Homo sapiens: one gene and its partners. The protein of the gene in region 1 purifies or fractionates together with the protein of each later gene. This does not show direct contact. Each region holds a gene or a part of one and is shown on either strand. Other genes may lie near its edges.

What was found. The genes of interacting proteins can lie anywhere in the genome.
Region 2: the proteins of PABPC4 (region 1) and MKRN1 purify together in Homo sapiens (affinity purification with mass spectrometry; 3 studies listed by BioGRID and IntAct, with this or other methods). This does not show direct contact.
Region 3: the proteins of PABPC4 (region 1) and LUC7L2 purify together in Homo sapiens (affinity purification with mass spectrometry; 2 studies listed by BioGRID, with this or other methods). This does not show direct contact.
Region 4: the proteins of PABPC4 (region 1) and DDX6 purify together in Homo sapiens (affinity purification with mass spectrometry; 3 studies listed by BioGRID and IntAct, with this or other methods). This does not show direct contact.

What each region holds. Positions count from the first base shown.
Region 1 is NC_000001.11:39,566,791-39,570,290, forward strand, and holds part of PABPC4 (polyadenylate-binding protein 4), read right to left. Parts: intron 3,213-3,500; coding exon 3,073-3,212; intron 2,900-3,072; coding exon 2,805-2,899; intron 2,150-2,804; coding exon 2,012-2,149; intron 1,057-2,011; coding exon 961-1,056; intron 721-960; exon of another isoform or gene 584-720; intron 1-583.
Region 2 is NC_000007.14:140,459,006-140,462,505, forward strand, and holds part of MKRN1 (E3 ubiquitin-protein ligase makorin-1), read right to left. Parts: intron 932-3,500; coding exon 702-931; intron 229-701; coding exon 2-228; intron 1-1. UniProt on the Homo sapiens protein: E3 ubiquitin ligase catalyzing the covalent attachment of ubiquitin moieties onto substrate proteins. These substrates include FILIP1, p53/TP53, CDKN1A and TERT.
Region 3 is NC_000007.14:139,404,894-139,408,393, reverse strand, and holds part of LUC7L2 (putative RNA-binding protein Luc7-like 2), read right to left. Parts: intron 2,751-3,500; coding exon 2,607-2,750; intron 1,221-2,606; coding exon 1,044-1,220; intron 1-1,043. Other genes in the region: FMC1-LUC7L2 readthrough protein, read right to left, coding at 1,044-1,220, 2,607-2,750. UniProt on the Homo sapiens protein: May bind to RNA via its Arg/Ser-rich domain.
Region 4 is NC_000011.10:118,753,165-118,756,664, forward strand, and holds part of DDX6 (probable ATP-dependent RNA helicase DDX6), read right to left. Parts: intron 3,160-3,500; coding exon 3,096-3,159; intron 2,340-3,095; coding exon 2,238-2,339; intron 1,724-2,237; coding exon 1,548-1,723; 3' UTR 1,541-1,547; intron 1-1,540.

The DNA.
Region 1 (3,500 bases):
AGATCACTCCTTACACTGATGAGGGCCAGTCAAGGGGGGGGTCATAGCAAAAACGAAAGGGTAAGAACTGGGCAAACCCACAGTTGGCCTCTGGCCAACTCCCTACTACAACTGATAACATTGCTTTCCACATTCCCAGGTTGGGAGCAAAGTCCACTAAGAGCCAGGGCAGGGCCACTAAGCCCTTACCAGCCCACGTGGCTTCCCTTCTCATCAACTAAAGGATTTTGTGGCATCTGGTACACCTGTTTAGCAAGACCGGCGTCTGCATCCGGCCATAACTCAAAATGTTCAGATGGCACCAGTTTCCATCCTGCTCCCAAAGTGCCAAGGACAAGCAGTACACCATCCCCATGTAGTCAGCATTCTCTTGTTCAAGGACTAAAATTCCTTATCTTTAAAATGAGGTTCCTACTTACCCTGCTAACTTAGTTGATATGATTATCAAAGAAAATCAAGCAAATGATGCACACTACGAAACATAGAAAAACCTTCCACTCCCCTTTCCTCTCTTTTTAAGACCAGGGTAGAAGTTCCCAAGCCCACCTCCAAAATCTTCAAAATACCTTCATTCTCAAGGAGAAAATGTGGCAGAGCTGTAGAGACAGGCCCCAAGACAAATGGAAAACAACCTGTCTGGATTTCCTCTGCTCATTCTGTAGCACCATCTGTCCCCACACCGGCACGAGGCAGCAAGGAATGGGAAAGATTCAGGTGCTCTGAGTTGGCAAGGAGGGGCTGGGTCAAATTCCTCTCCAGACTCCAGTGCTTGGGAAACAGTGTAATGTTAACCTAATGAAATGTCATTCTCCAGAATGCATCCAGAAATTTTGCTAGAAAAACGTAGTAGCTACTTTCAGAAATGAACATAATTTAAATGCTATTCCTTCAATGGGACAAATGCCAATAAGCCTATAATGGAATACCACTGCTTTCAATCCCCAGATCGCAGTATAATACCTTAGCACTGGTAATTGATCCAAAAGGAGAAAATTCTTTCCTTAATTTCTCATCATCAATAGTGTCATCCAAGTTCTTAATGTAGAGATTCACCCCCTGAAGGAAAAAGATCACTGTTAACTACACTTCTATATCACAAATATTCCCTAAGAAAGTGGTTCCCCAAGGGTGGCCCCAGACCAGGAGCACCAGCATCTTTGGGAACTTGTTAGAAATGAAATTCTCGGCCGGACGCGGTGGCTCACGCCTGTAATCCCAGCACTTTGGGAGGCCGAGGCGGGCGAATCACAAGGTCAGGAGATCGAGACCATCCTGGCTAACACAGTGAAACCCCGTCTCTACTAAAAATACAAAAAATTAGCCAGGCATGGTGGCGGGTGCCTGTAGTCCCAGCTACTCAGGAGGCTAAGGCAGGAGAATGGTGCGAACCCGGGAGGCGGAGTTTGCAGTGAGCCGAGATTGTGCCACTGCACTCCAACCTGGGCGACAGAGCGAGACTGTCTCAAGAAAAAAAAAAAAAAAAGAAAGAAATGAAATTCTTAGGCCAGACCCCAAACCCAATGAATAAGAAAAACTCTGGGGCTGGAGCCCAGCTATCTGTTTTAACAAGCTCTGCTGATGAATCTGATGCAAGTCCAAAGTTGTGAAACTACTGCCCTGAAACTGACAGGATCATCAGTGCACTCACCTTTTGTCACCTCTCCCCACAGCTGTTCTGGTGACCACTCACCCACCCCAGCAGGGGTCTTCTTGAAGCCATGCCAAACAAAGGAGTCTCATTTAAGTAAAAGGAACCTACATGGCTAAAAGCAACAGGCTGAGGCTTCCAAAATAGAGAGCTTCTTGATGAATAAACCCATCTCTTGTTTCTGGTTCTATAATAATCAGTCATATGTAGTAGGTATATATCCTTTTAAACCTCATCTTTTTAGGTAAAATGGGAAGAAGAACACACTCCAAGTCCTCAAAAAGAAAGCCCGCTAAACATAGGGGTGTTCTGCAAATATTTCACAGCAAATCCCATTGCTAGGCTGGGCCAAGACCACCTTACCTGATATCGACTAATTCTCTCCTGTTTCAACTGTTCAAATTTCCGTTTTAACTCTGCCTGCCGTTCTACTTTCTTTTGTGCACGGCCTACAAATATGATTTTACCACTTATTTCTTTTCCATTCATCTCTTCCACAGCCTAGAGAGGAAAAATATGTCTTTAAAATAAAGTTGCAGCGATGGGGTCTTATTCTGGAGGTCTAAGTCCCAAAAAATATTCTTTCTACTATAGGACTAAAAACTAAATTCACTCCACCTCTGAAGTCTGTCACACAAATCCAAACTTCCTCATCTGTAAAGTGAGGTTAATATTTAAATGGGTTATTGATCCAGATAATATAGAAATAGTACAGGTGTATAAACACAAGTGTGCTGACATGAGCCTAGGGCGATATAATATTCCGGCTGCCAGTAAATTCTGCAGGTGCTTTTGTGGGTATTTAAGTGATAAATATTGAGGGTCTGGCACAATGCTTTGCCCACAAGTAGCTGCCGTGCTGTTATCAAATCAGCACTCACTGGGCTTTAGTTCTCTCACCTTTGCAGCATAACAAACGTCTGTCCTATTCTTTCAACAACTGATAGCTGAGGTGACAGGTATGTGCCAAGTGCTTTGTAAACACCTACATGAAGTTAACATGCGGAACCCAGGAAGATGATCCCAGAGTATAGTAATGGTACATCTACTACCAGATACTCAGACCGTCCCAGCTCTAGGTAGGTGCTAGCAAGACCCTACCCATACTCTGGGGCAACCTCTTAAAAGCTTTTCCCAATCTTTGTGGTATACTCACCTTATTGGCATCCTCGTGTTTTTCGTAACTCACAAAGCCAAAGCCTTTGGATTTCCCATTGGGATCTCTCATCACCTTGACACTTAGGGTCTTACCTATTACCAAAGGACAGAACTATTAGTAACACCATCTTGAGCACAGCTCAGGAACAGAAGGCTTCCCTCTGGAAACTCACTTGAAGCAAATCTCTGGAGCAGTGCCCTCATCTCTTAAGAAAAAACAGATGGGTCTGGTAGACTGTGAAAGGAGACAAGGAACCCCAACTTACCAAACTGACTGAATAGCTCTTTCAGACTCTCATCATCCACCTCTTCCCCAAAGTTTTTGATATAAACATTGGTGAATTCCTTGGCTTTGGCTCCAAGCTCAGCTTCCCGCTCTTTGCGAGACTTGAATCTGCCCACAAATCTAAAATGAAACCATGAAGAACAGTAATTACCCAGAGGAATAAAACATGATGTCCAGGGACCCAAAGGAATACAGGTTAAAGACTGACAGGAGAGGTTAAAACACGAGATCCCCATCCACCACCAAGGAGGCTCAGAGATACCCCAAGTCCCCAGCAGAAAGAGAAAAAGGCAGGACTATCCTGTGAGGACCAGCCCCAGGGCTCCTGGCTTAGACCAGGGCTATTCCTACCACATCACACTGCCTTCATGAAGAAACCTGATGGCCATGTTTTTAAAATGTTCATTT
Region 2 (3,500 bases), on another chromosome or scaffold:
CTTTGATATGCTGCGATCTCTGGGCAGCATCCATTGGATGCAGGACCTGCAGCCCACACATGTCACAAGAATCTCCGTGGAGATACACACAGTTCTCCCCGTATCGGCACTCTCCCACTGCAGCATAGGGGCACAGCTGCTTCTTTGTCTCCACGGCGGTTTGCTCTTTCTCTGATTCTTCCTTGGTCACTGAGCCCTGCAGGGGTGCTTCAGTGCAGGAAGGCGCAGCTGAAAATGTGTAAGAGGGTGGTAAAGGTCCAAATAGATAAGGCATGAACTATAAGAGAACTGAGAATCTAACCGCAAAAAATGAAAATAAAACTGCAATGAAATACCAAAACAGTCTACTGAACTAACTTCTTCACTTGAAAGAAAGGAATTTTTTCTACCGCTGTTATTTCCAAGATTAGACTTGTAAAAAAAAAAAATTGCTTCTTTATCTATGTCTTGGGTAACTGAAATTTAATTTCAAAAAGTACTCGAAAGGATTCAGTTTTTCAAAACATTCTGAATTCATTTCACTGGGATTAAAAATTTCCTTCACTCTATCTGTAAATCTTAGGTAATCCAAATTAAAGTACTGTACTAAGATTAAACTAAAAAAGGAATAGAAGCAGAAAGGGGAAAGTTGTCAAAACTAAGCAAATGGATGAACTGCTATCCAGCCCTCTAACTCTTATTTTCTTCTTCAGAATACTTACTACGGCCACAGTAGGGTTGCCCAGGAACAAACTCAATAGCATTCACCCAGTCCTCTGAACCTGCTCCTACAGTTGCAAAGTTTGAATTTCTTGACTCAGCTTCGCCTGTATTCATTTCAACAAGTGGTCCAACTATCGATGAGAGACTTGAGGAAGCAGCAAGGGATGACTTTGTAGTTAGCTCTGTAGCAGTTGCTTCTTCCTGTTTCAATGGTTTGCTATGTTCATATCTAAGAAAAAATTCAAAAGTAAGCAGTCGGCCAGTCGTGGTGGCTCAAGCCTGTAATCCCAACAGTTTGGGAAGCTGAGGTGGGTGGATCACCAGAGAGGTTGGGAGTTCGAGACCAGCCTGGCCAATGTGGTGAAAACCCGTCACTACCAAAAACGCAAAAATTAGCTGGGCATGGTGGCGCACCTGTAATCCCAACTACTCGGGAGGCTGAGGTAGGAGAATCACTTGAACCCAGGAGACAGAGGTTGTGGTGAGCCGAGATCATGCCACTGTACTCCAGCCTGGGCGACAGAGTGAGACTCCGTCTCAAAAAAAAAAAAAAAAAAAAAGTAAGCACTCACTGCCTAACTTCATATATACCTTTTTCTTTTCTTTTTTTTTTTTTTTTTGAGATGGAGTCTTGCTCTGTCATCCAGGCTGGAGTGCAGTGGCGTGATCTCAGCTCACTGCAAACTCTGCCTCCTGGGTTCATGGGATTCTCCTGCCTCAGCCTCCCAAGTAGCTGGGATTACAGGCGCCAGCCACCAAGGCTGGCTAAGTTTTGTATCTTTAGTGGAGATGCCGTTTGGCCAGGCTGATCTCGAACTCCTGACCTCAGATGATCCACCCACCTCAGCCTCCCAAAGTGCTGGGGTTACAGGTGTGAGCCACCACGTACGGCCATATATTCCTAATACATTCCTTGGATTCTCTTTGAGCATCAATGTGCCTGTATTTGTGAGTGCAGAGAGAAGCCTATGATTCTGCATATTTAGTTATACCATGTGTGATGCCAAGACTGCTGGTCCAGAGACCATACTTTTGAGTAGGAAGGCAATAGACTGGGGGTCACCAAAGTTTAAAGCATCAAATACACAAATATTTTAGGCTTTGTAGGTCATACAATCAACATCACAACTACAAGTATTCAACTCTGAAACTGCAGTGCAAAAGCAGGTGTAGGCACTATTTAAAGGAATGTGTAACTGTTCCGATCAAACTTGATTTATGAAAACGGCCTTTGGCCAGATTTGGCCTGTAGGCCCATACCCCTGGCTATATACCACTTATTACTTCAAATTCCACTCTAATTAGGAGTTTCAGATAGTTGACAGTCTATAGTTCCCATGGTAACTCTGCCAGAAACCCTGCAGGCAAAACTGACTGATTTCAAAGCAAGGCTGACACAAGGTCAATAAGCAGACATGTGGAACATTTTACCAACACATCAAATAAAATGCTGTCACTATTAAAAGGTAGAGACAATATTTATACAATACACAATATGTACATTCTTTTTCTAAGAAAATCCATCCATTCACCATTTCCCCTTCCAAATTTTGCCCCTATGCATTCTCTCCTTTTCATCTGTAAACATTAAACCACCACCATCTCCAAATACGTGGGGAAAATACATCTATTTCCTTCAAGAACCTTCTTTCTGGCCTGGTGCGGTGGCTCACACCTGTCATCCCAACACTTTGGAAGTCCAAGGAGGCCAGATCACTTAAGGCCAGGAGTGTAAGACCAGCCTGGCGAAACCTGGTCTCTACTAAAAATAAAAAATTATCCGGGCATGGTGGCGCACACCTGTAATACCAGCTACTCAGGAGAGGCTGAGGCATAACAGTTGTTTAAACATGGGAGGTGGAGGGTGCAGTGAGCCAAGATCAGGCCACTGCATTCCAGCCTGGGCAACAGAGTGAGACTCTGTTTCAAAAAATAATAAAAAAAAAGCAAAGCATAGCAAGCATCTTTCTGCCTGAGAAAATTCTCACAGTTCCTGCTGGACGTGGTGGCTCAGGCCTGTAATCCCAGCACTTTGGGAGGGTGAGGCGGGTGGATCACCTGAGGTTGGGAGTTCGAGACCAGCCTGACCACCATGGAGAAACCCCGTCTCTACTAAAAATACAAAATTAGCCAGGCATGGTGGCGCATGCTTGTAATCCCAGCTACTTGGGAGGCAGAGGCAGGAGAATCACTTGAACCTGGGAGGCGGAGGTTGCAGTGAGCCTAGATGGTGCCATTGCACTCCAGCCTGGGCAACAAGAGCAAAACTCCATCTCGAAAGAAAAGAAAAGACAATTATCACAATTCTTTTAGCATTTTACACTAAGAAATTGACTGATTTTCAGAGACTCACTCTATCTCCTAGGCTGGAGTGCAGTAGCGTGACCTTAGCTCACTGCAGCCTCGACCTCCTGGGCTCAAGCAATCCGTCTGCCTTAGCCTCCTGAGTAGCTGGGACGACAGGTGTGTGCCACAATGCTGGTCTAACTTTTTTTATTTTTTGTAGAGACAAGGTTTCCCTATGTTGTCCAGGCTGGTCTCCAACTCCTGGGCTCAAGCAAGCCTCCTGCCTTAGCCTCCCAAAGTGATAGGCATGAGCCACCGTGCTCGGCACACCGAGTTTTATTCAGATGCTATGTATTAATTATGCATATAGTAAATTTAACTGTGCTACATAATTTATAGTTTGTTATCAAGTGGTTCTTATAATGAAACATTACTAACTTTGGGTCATCTGTGTTATAGGTGCCTATGTTTATACGCAAAAATAAAGTAAAATCTAACTAAAGGCTCTACTC
Region 3 (3,500 bases), on another chromosome or scaffold:
CCATCCTGATGCTGCTGCTTTTTAAAGATATGAGTAAAATGCTTGAGTTCTGTTGCTAGGTCTATCTGCAAAGACTCCCAAGTAGGAACCACTGGAGTTTTAACTTGGAGCCTAGTAACTATTTGCTATAGTGACTCTTTTCGAAATTTTTAAAAAATTACTTGAGATCACCCTAGCTACTCAGAATACTGAAAAGAGCCCACTGTTACCTGAGAATATGGAGATGTCCCTAGGCATTTTCTGATTCTATATTATTTTAAATGCTATGGACCTTGAGTTAATTCCAGTTGACAATAACAGTTACAAAGAAAATGACTATCCCATGTTTCCTATCTGTCAGCCAGACCTCAATTCATGAAAAAACACTACAGTGCCACAATTCTTAAAAAGCTATCAGCATATTAAAAGGTAAATAGATTATATCCACCAACACTCATCTTTACCACTTCAGAAATATCACCATGCTTTTTTGTGTTTATCCCCTCTAAACAACAAGAGTAAAAACTGTGTTGTCTTCCCCACAAAAGCCTATATTATTTAAGTAATAGTGATTGTCCTTTTAAAAAAATATAAATTTTTTCATAAGTCCTTTCTGAAGTGGAAGCAGGAGCATAAAATAAAACTAGAGATTCTGCAAGCTTGCTATTTAATAAAGAATTGCAAAATATTTCAAATTAATATTGGGTTCATTTTCTCAAACTTCTTATAAATATTATATTATTACATTCTTATTGACCTTATTGAAAAGAACAATAACAATGAAGTTTTATGGGACTCTTTTAGTAACTAGTTTGAAAGATCCCTAACTCGGTGTCATATCTAATATAAAATGGTAACTCCCAAAATAACAGGATAATATTAAGTCTGTTTCTCAGGCAGCATCCATTAAACCAACTTGAATTTCCATCTATAATCCTACACTGTTTAGTATTAATCATTAGATACTATATTACTGAATCATAGTCAAGAATATTGTACAAAAAGGCAACTGATACAGATCAAAAGAACAAGAGGATAAAGTGAGGAATATTTTACCAATGTACCTTTAATTCTTCAAGCTTCTCTCTTATTTCAATAAATCCCAGGTGCAGTTTACCCCCAAAATGATCAGCCAGTCGTCTGTCATTATCATGAAGTCCTAAATAGGCAGAGCAGACTTCACAGACTCGAAGTTTCTGCTGCTGAAAACTGGAAGCTGGCATAGAATTCCGATAAACTTCCTAAACAAAAGTGAGAAAAACAATGACCATATAAATCTCACTAAAAGTCATACAATTAAATAAAATATACTATGCTTATACCAAAAGTGTTTTCTAAAAAATACACAAAAGTGGCTGGGCACGGTGGCTCACTGGGGCGAGACTCCAGCTCAAAAAAAAAAAAAAAAAAAAACCACAAAAGCATGGCTATTTTGTTATGAAAATTATAGGTTCCCTTTATCCCCATCCTCTATCCTTAGCGCCTCTCTCCACTGGAGTATAAGGAAATAATAAACATGAACAGAAATCAATGAAATAGAAAACAAGAAAAAAACAATAAAATCAGAAGACTGGTTCTTTGAAAAACAAAATAAAACTGACCAGCTAGATTAATTAAGAAAAGACACGAATTGCAAACATTCTACAGATATTAAAAGAGAACACTATGAACAACTTTATATCAATAAATACAACTTAGAGAGATTTTCTGAAAGACAAATTTACCAAAAGTATTTTAAAAAACAACAACAACAAAAAAACAGGCCAGGCCGGGTGGCTCACGCCTGTAATCCCAGCACTTTGGGAGGCTGAGGTGGACAGATCACCCCAGGTCAGGAGTTCAAGACCAGCCTGGCCAACATGGTGAAAGCCTATCTCTACTAAAAATACAAAAAATTAGCCGGGCATGGTGGTGCACACCTGTAGTCCCAGCTACTCAGCAGGCTGAGGCAAGAGAATCGCCTGAACCCAGGAAGCAGAGGTTTCAGTGAGCTGAGATCGCACCACTACACTCCAGCCTTGGAGAGAGAGTAAGACTCTGTCTTAAAAAAAAAAAAAAAAAAGGCCCTGGTGCAGTGGTTCATGCCTGTAATCCTAGCACTTTGGGAGGCCGAGGCAGGTGGATCACCTGAGGTTGGGTGTTCAAGACCAGCCTGACCAACATGGAGAAACCCTGTCTCTACTAAAAATATAAATATTAGCCAGGTGTGGTGGCATGGGCCTGTAATCCCAGCTACTTGGGAGGCTGAGGCAGGAGAATCGCTTGAACCCGGGAGGCAGAGGTTGCGGTGAGCTGAGATCATGCCATTGCACTCCTGCCTGAGCAAGAAGAGCAAAACTCCATCTCAAAAAAACAAAAAGAAGAAGGCTGGACTTGAACTGGACTCAAGCGATCCACCTTAGCCTGCAAAATAGCTGGGACCAAAGGCACGCACCACCACAACCAGCTTTTTCCGAGTTTTGTTTTGTTTTTGTCTTTTAGTTCAACTTCTCTTTAACAACTGTTCAATAATTTCCATTCAAATACATGTTCTTAGAGAAGTATAGATACTGAAGTTTCATCTACTACTTTTTATTTGTAGTCTTACCAAATTAAGCAGAATTCGTCTACTACTATTAAGAATTTACCTCTGCTTCTCTTTTCTTTGCCCGTGCTTTCTCTACTTCATCCATTACTTTCTGGGATTCCTCCACATTCCCTTCAGCTCCTAGTTGTTCCACCTTGGCTAACAATTTACCAATTTCTTCATTTAACTCATGAACACGTTCTGCCTAAAAAGAAATAAAAAAGAAGATCATGAATAAACAAGAGAATGAATTTTAAATTTCAAAGTATTTCAGAACTGCTGAGAAAAAACTTGTTATCTAAGGCAGTATGTGGTTAAAGAATGCTTTCTGAGCGTATCCCAAATGAACTACTGAGACATCAGGATGTTCTGAGCCTGCCTGCCTTACCTCAATGAAGTCAGGGCTACTACTGGGCCCAATATAACTTTCTATCCTCTGGCGAGGTGGTGTATTCCTAGTGTAAAATACGATTTCTTCCATGATCTGGCCCTTTGTACTTTTCTAAACCATCTCTTGCTACTCCCCCACCTCACAACATAATTTATAGTTTCCCCAAACTTACCCTGTTGTTTTCTACCTCTGTTACTTTGCATATACTCTTCTTTCTGGGATGGGATCCCTTACCTCTCGCCTGCCTACTGAATATTCACTCGTTCCAACAAGATACAACTCAAGGGCCATTTCTGTAAAACATTCCTGAACAGTCACCACATCCCAGCCCCACTTAAACACATCAGCAAAGATGGCCATACTCTCTCCTTTGTGTCACCTTTGTATCTTTTTTGACAGTTCCTTTCATAAATATCATACTACTTTAAGGACAGCTATCTGTATTTCCCATCTTTGTATCTCTAGTGCTCAGCAAATAGCCTAGGCTCAAATATGAGTTAAAGAAATGAATTGGTGGATCAAGTTCAGGAATCCATCAGATCTGACTTATTGCTAAACCAATTA
Region 4 (3,500 bases), on another chromosome or scaffold:
ATTACAGGCGCCCGCCACCATGCCTGGCTAATTTTCTGTATCTTTAGTGGACACGGGGTCTCACCAGGTTGGCCAGGCTGGTCTTGAAGTCCTGACCTCAGGTAATCCACCCACCTCGGCCTCCCAAAGTGCTGGGATTACAGGTGTGAGCCACTGAGCCAGCCCAAGTGGCTTTTTTTTTTTTTTTTTTTTTGAGATGGAGTCTAGCTTTGTCACCCAGGCTGGAGTGCAGTGGTGCGGTCTCAGCTCACTGTAACCTCCACCTCCCAGGTTCAAGTGATTCGCCTGCCTCAGCCTCCCGAGTAGCTGGGACTACAGGTGCGTGTCACCATGCCCGGCTAATTTTTGTATTTTTAGTAGAGACAGGGTTTCACCATGTTGGCCAGGATGGTCTCGATCTCTTGACCTCGTGATCCGCCCACCTCGGCCTCCCAAAGTACTGGGATTACAGGTGTGAGCCACCGCACCCGGCCCAGAGTGGGTATTTTAAAAAGATGGCCATCCTCATAATCTGATTAAACATTTGCTAATAAGGTATTATGGATAGTTTTATCAGAGTGATTAATGTACTTACTAGAAATTAAGAGTAAATGCTAAAAACATTTTACATTTTCAGAAATGTAAATACTTTCATATTCAAAACTGCTGGCAGTGTGGTGGCTCACACCTGTAATCCCAGCCTCCCTTTAGGAGGCTGAGGCGGGTAGATCACTTGAGGTCAGGAGTTCAAGACCAACCTGGCCAACATGGTGAAACTCCAACTCTACTAAAAAATACAAAAATTAGCTGGGCATGGTGGAGCATGCCTGTAATTCCAGCTACTTGGGAGGCTGAGGTGCACCAGAATCGCTTGAACCTGGGAGGCAGAGGTTGCAGTGGGCCGTGATTGTGCCACTGTACTCCAGCCTGGGCAACAGAGCAAGACTCTCAAAAAACAAAAACAACAAAAATCCCCCCTACAAAACTGTCAAAAAAGGCCAGGCACAGTGGCACAGTGGCTTGCGCCTATAATCCTAACACTTTGGGAAGCCAAGGCAGGAGGACTGCTGGAGTTCAGGAGTTCTGGACCAGCCTAGGCAACAAAGCAAGACCTTGTTTCTACCAAAAATTTAAAACATTAGGCAGGCGTGGTGGCATGTGCCTACAGTTCCAGCTACTCAGGAGCCCAGGAGAACCAGGCTGCAGTGAGCTATGATTGCACCACTGCACTCCAGCCTGGATGACAGTGAGACCTTGTCTCAAAAAGAAAAACAAATTGCTGAAAAACATTCTTTTTTGCTTTCATTATTTTAGGACTCTGAATTTAAGTACTGCTAATCTACCACATTACCCGGGAAGCTGCATTCAAGAACAACATTTACAGATTCTCGAATGAGACTACAACCTCCCACAAGAGATATTATTTACTGTCATTTATGCTAGTGGGTATTTTACCCTTTATTGCTATTATATATGGTGTGACATCAAATTTCCCCCAGGAAAGAAGATTTTGATTTCCCTCATTTAAAGGTTCCTCTTAGCTGTTCTGTCAGGGACGTACATGCTTGTTAAGGTTTCTCATCTTCTACAGGCTCGCTGTGGTATTCTGCCACATACAGGCTCTTATCAATGTTGCTCGGAATAGGTTTAATTTCTGTTCCCAGCTGCTCCTCAATACTTTTCAGGTTGAAGCGATCATCATATGTGATCAAGTTGATGGCTAAGCCAAGATGACCAAAGCGACCTAAAAAACATGCGTTTAAAAATTTTAATGAATAAAATATGAAAATCAATGTGAATTGTGCAAGTCAAGCAGTGGCAAAACCACACAGGATTGATAATGATGTTCAGTGCCATTCTTAGTATGCAAAACAACTTCTTAATGGTCTTCAAACACAGGTTTCCCTACAACTTCAGGTTTCGCAGCCCAAAATAGTACTTCATTTCACCTTTCTCAAATGACAAAATGGCAGTCAAAACTGCCATAAAATACACATTAAACAACAGTCACAGAACATACCACCTAATGAGTGAAGTTCTCATGTGTTAATTTCATCTCAAATTAAGCAGTTATTTTAACTTTTCTTAATAAATGCTACAGAAGAATTAGAAATTAGTCTTAAATACCAAACAACTGAATTACTGTTAATTCACTGTTCTCATAGCTACTGTACTCTATTTCACAAAAGAACAAAATTTAGTCATTACACGCCTCAAAAAAGAACTTCTACCAAGAATATCACCTCTTTTTTCCTCACCTGATCTTCCAATACGATGGAGATAGGTCTCTGCCAGCTTTGGGAAATCAAAGTTTATTACCACATTCACAGCTTGTATATCAATACCTCGGGTAAACAGATCTTAAAAAAAAAAAGATAATTTTCATTTTTTCAATTTAGAAATGTCTCTCAGTACAATACTAACACATATTTCTAGCATAACCTAAGTTTATTAATTTAATTCAGTTATTCAAATGCATTTGCACATTACTGGCATTACCTTTCATAATCACATTATCATAAATAACTTTCTGCTCCCAAGTTACTTTTTTCCAGTAATTGTAAGCAAGTTTTAAAAAATGTGTCTAAAAGAGGCTGGGTGCACTCAAGCCTGTAATCCCAGCACTTTGGGAGACCAAAGCAGGAAGATCACCTGAGGTCAGGAGTTCGAGACCAGCCTGGCCAACATGGTGAAATCCCTGTCTCTACCAAAAATACAAAAATTAGCCGGGCTAAGCGGTAGCAGGCGCCCACAATCCCAGCTACTTGGGAGGCTGAGGCAGGAGAATCACTTGAACCCAGGAGGTGGAGGTTTCAGAGAGCCAAGATCGCACCACTGCACTCCAGCCTGGGTGACAAAGATTCCATCCCCCTCCCCCCCCCCCCCAAAAAAAAGACAGAGATGAGGTATGAGTGCCAGAGTAAGTCTTCTAAAGTTTCAGATATGGAACCCAGTATCAGGAGCTGACAAGAGTTCATTTTCAACTTCAGAAATCCTAGAAGTAGTGGTAGGGTGTGTCGGACTATGTCACAGGTTGCACTATGTAATATGAACAGAGAAAGCAAAAAACAACTTGGGAGAAAAACACTGGGTAAAGGAAATACAAAAATACTTACCAGTGCAAACAAGATTGCGGCATAAGCCATTTCGGAAATCATGAAATACACGATTTCGATGTTCCTAGGAGAAAGCAATGTATTCCATTTGATTAACACTCATATACAGCCCCAAATTTCCCATAATTATTTCTCCCAGACGATCAGTTCTACCCAAAATCTGTTTATAAGTGATCCATGATATTAAGCTGCTTTCAAAACCAAATGAGTTAAGTTCTTGATATCTTCGTCTACAGAAACTGTTTACTTACGAAATTTCATAATGTAGTTAACAAAAAAGTCATTTTTGTTACAGTTTTAAATTATTTTTTGCTAAATCAAATTCTGAAATTTAGATATTGTATCTTTTTCTAAAGGCAAACAGTAAAGAAAAAAAGAAAAATCAGCCAGCTGAGGGGCCATATT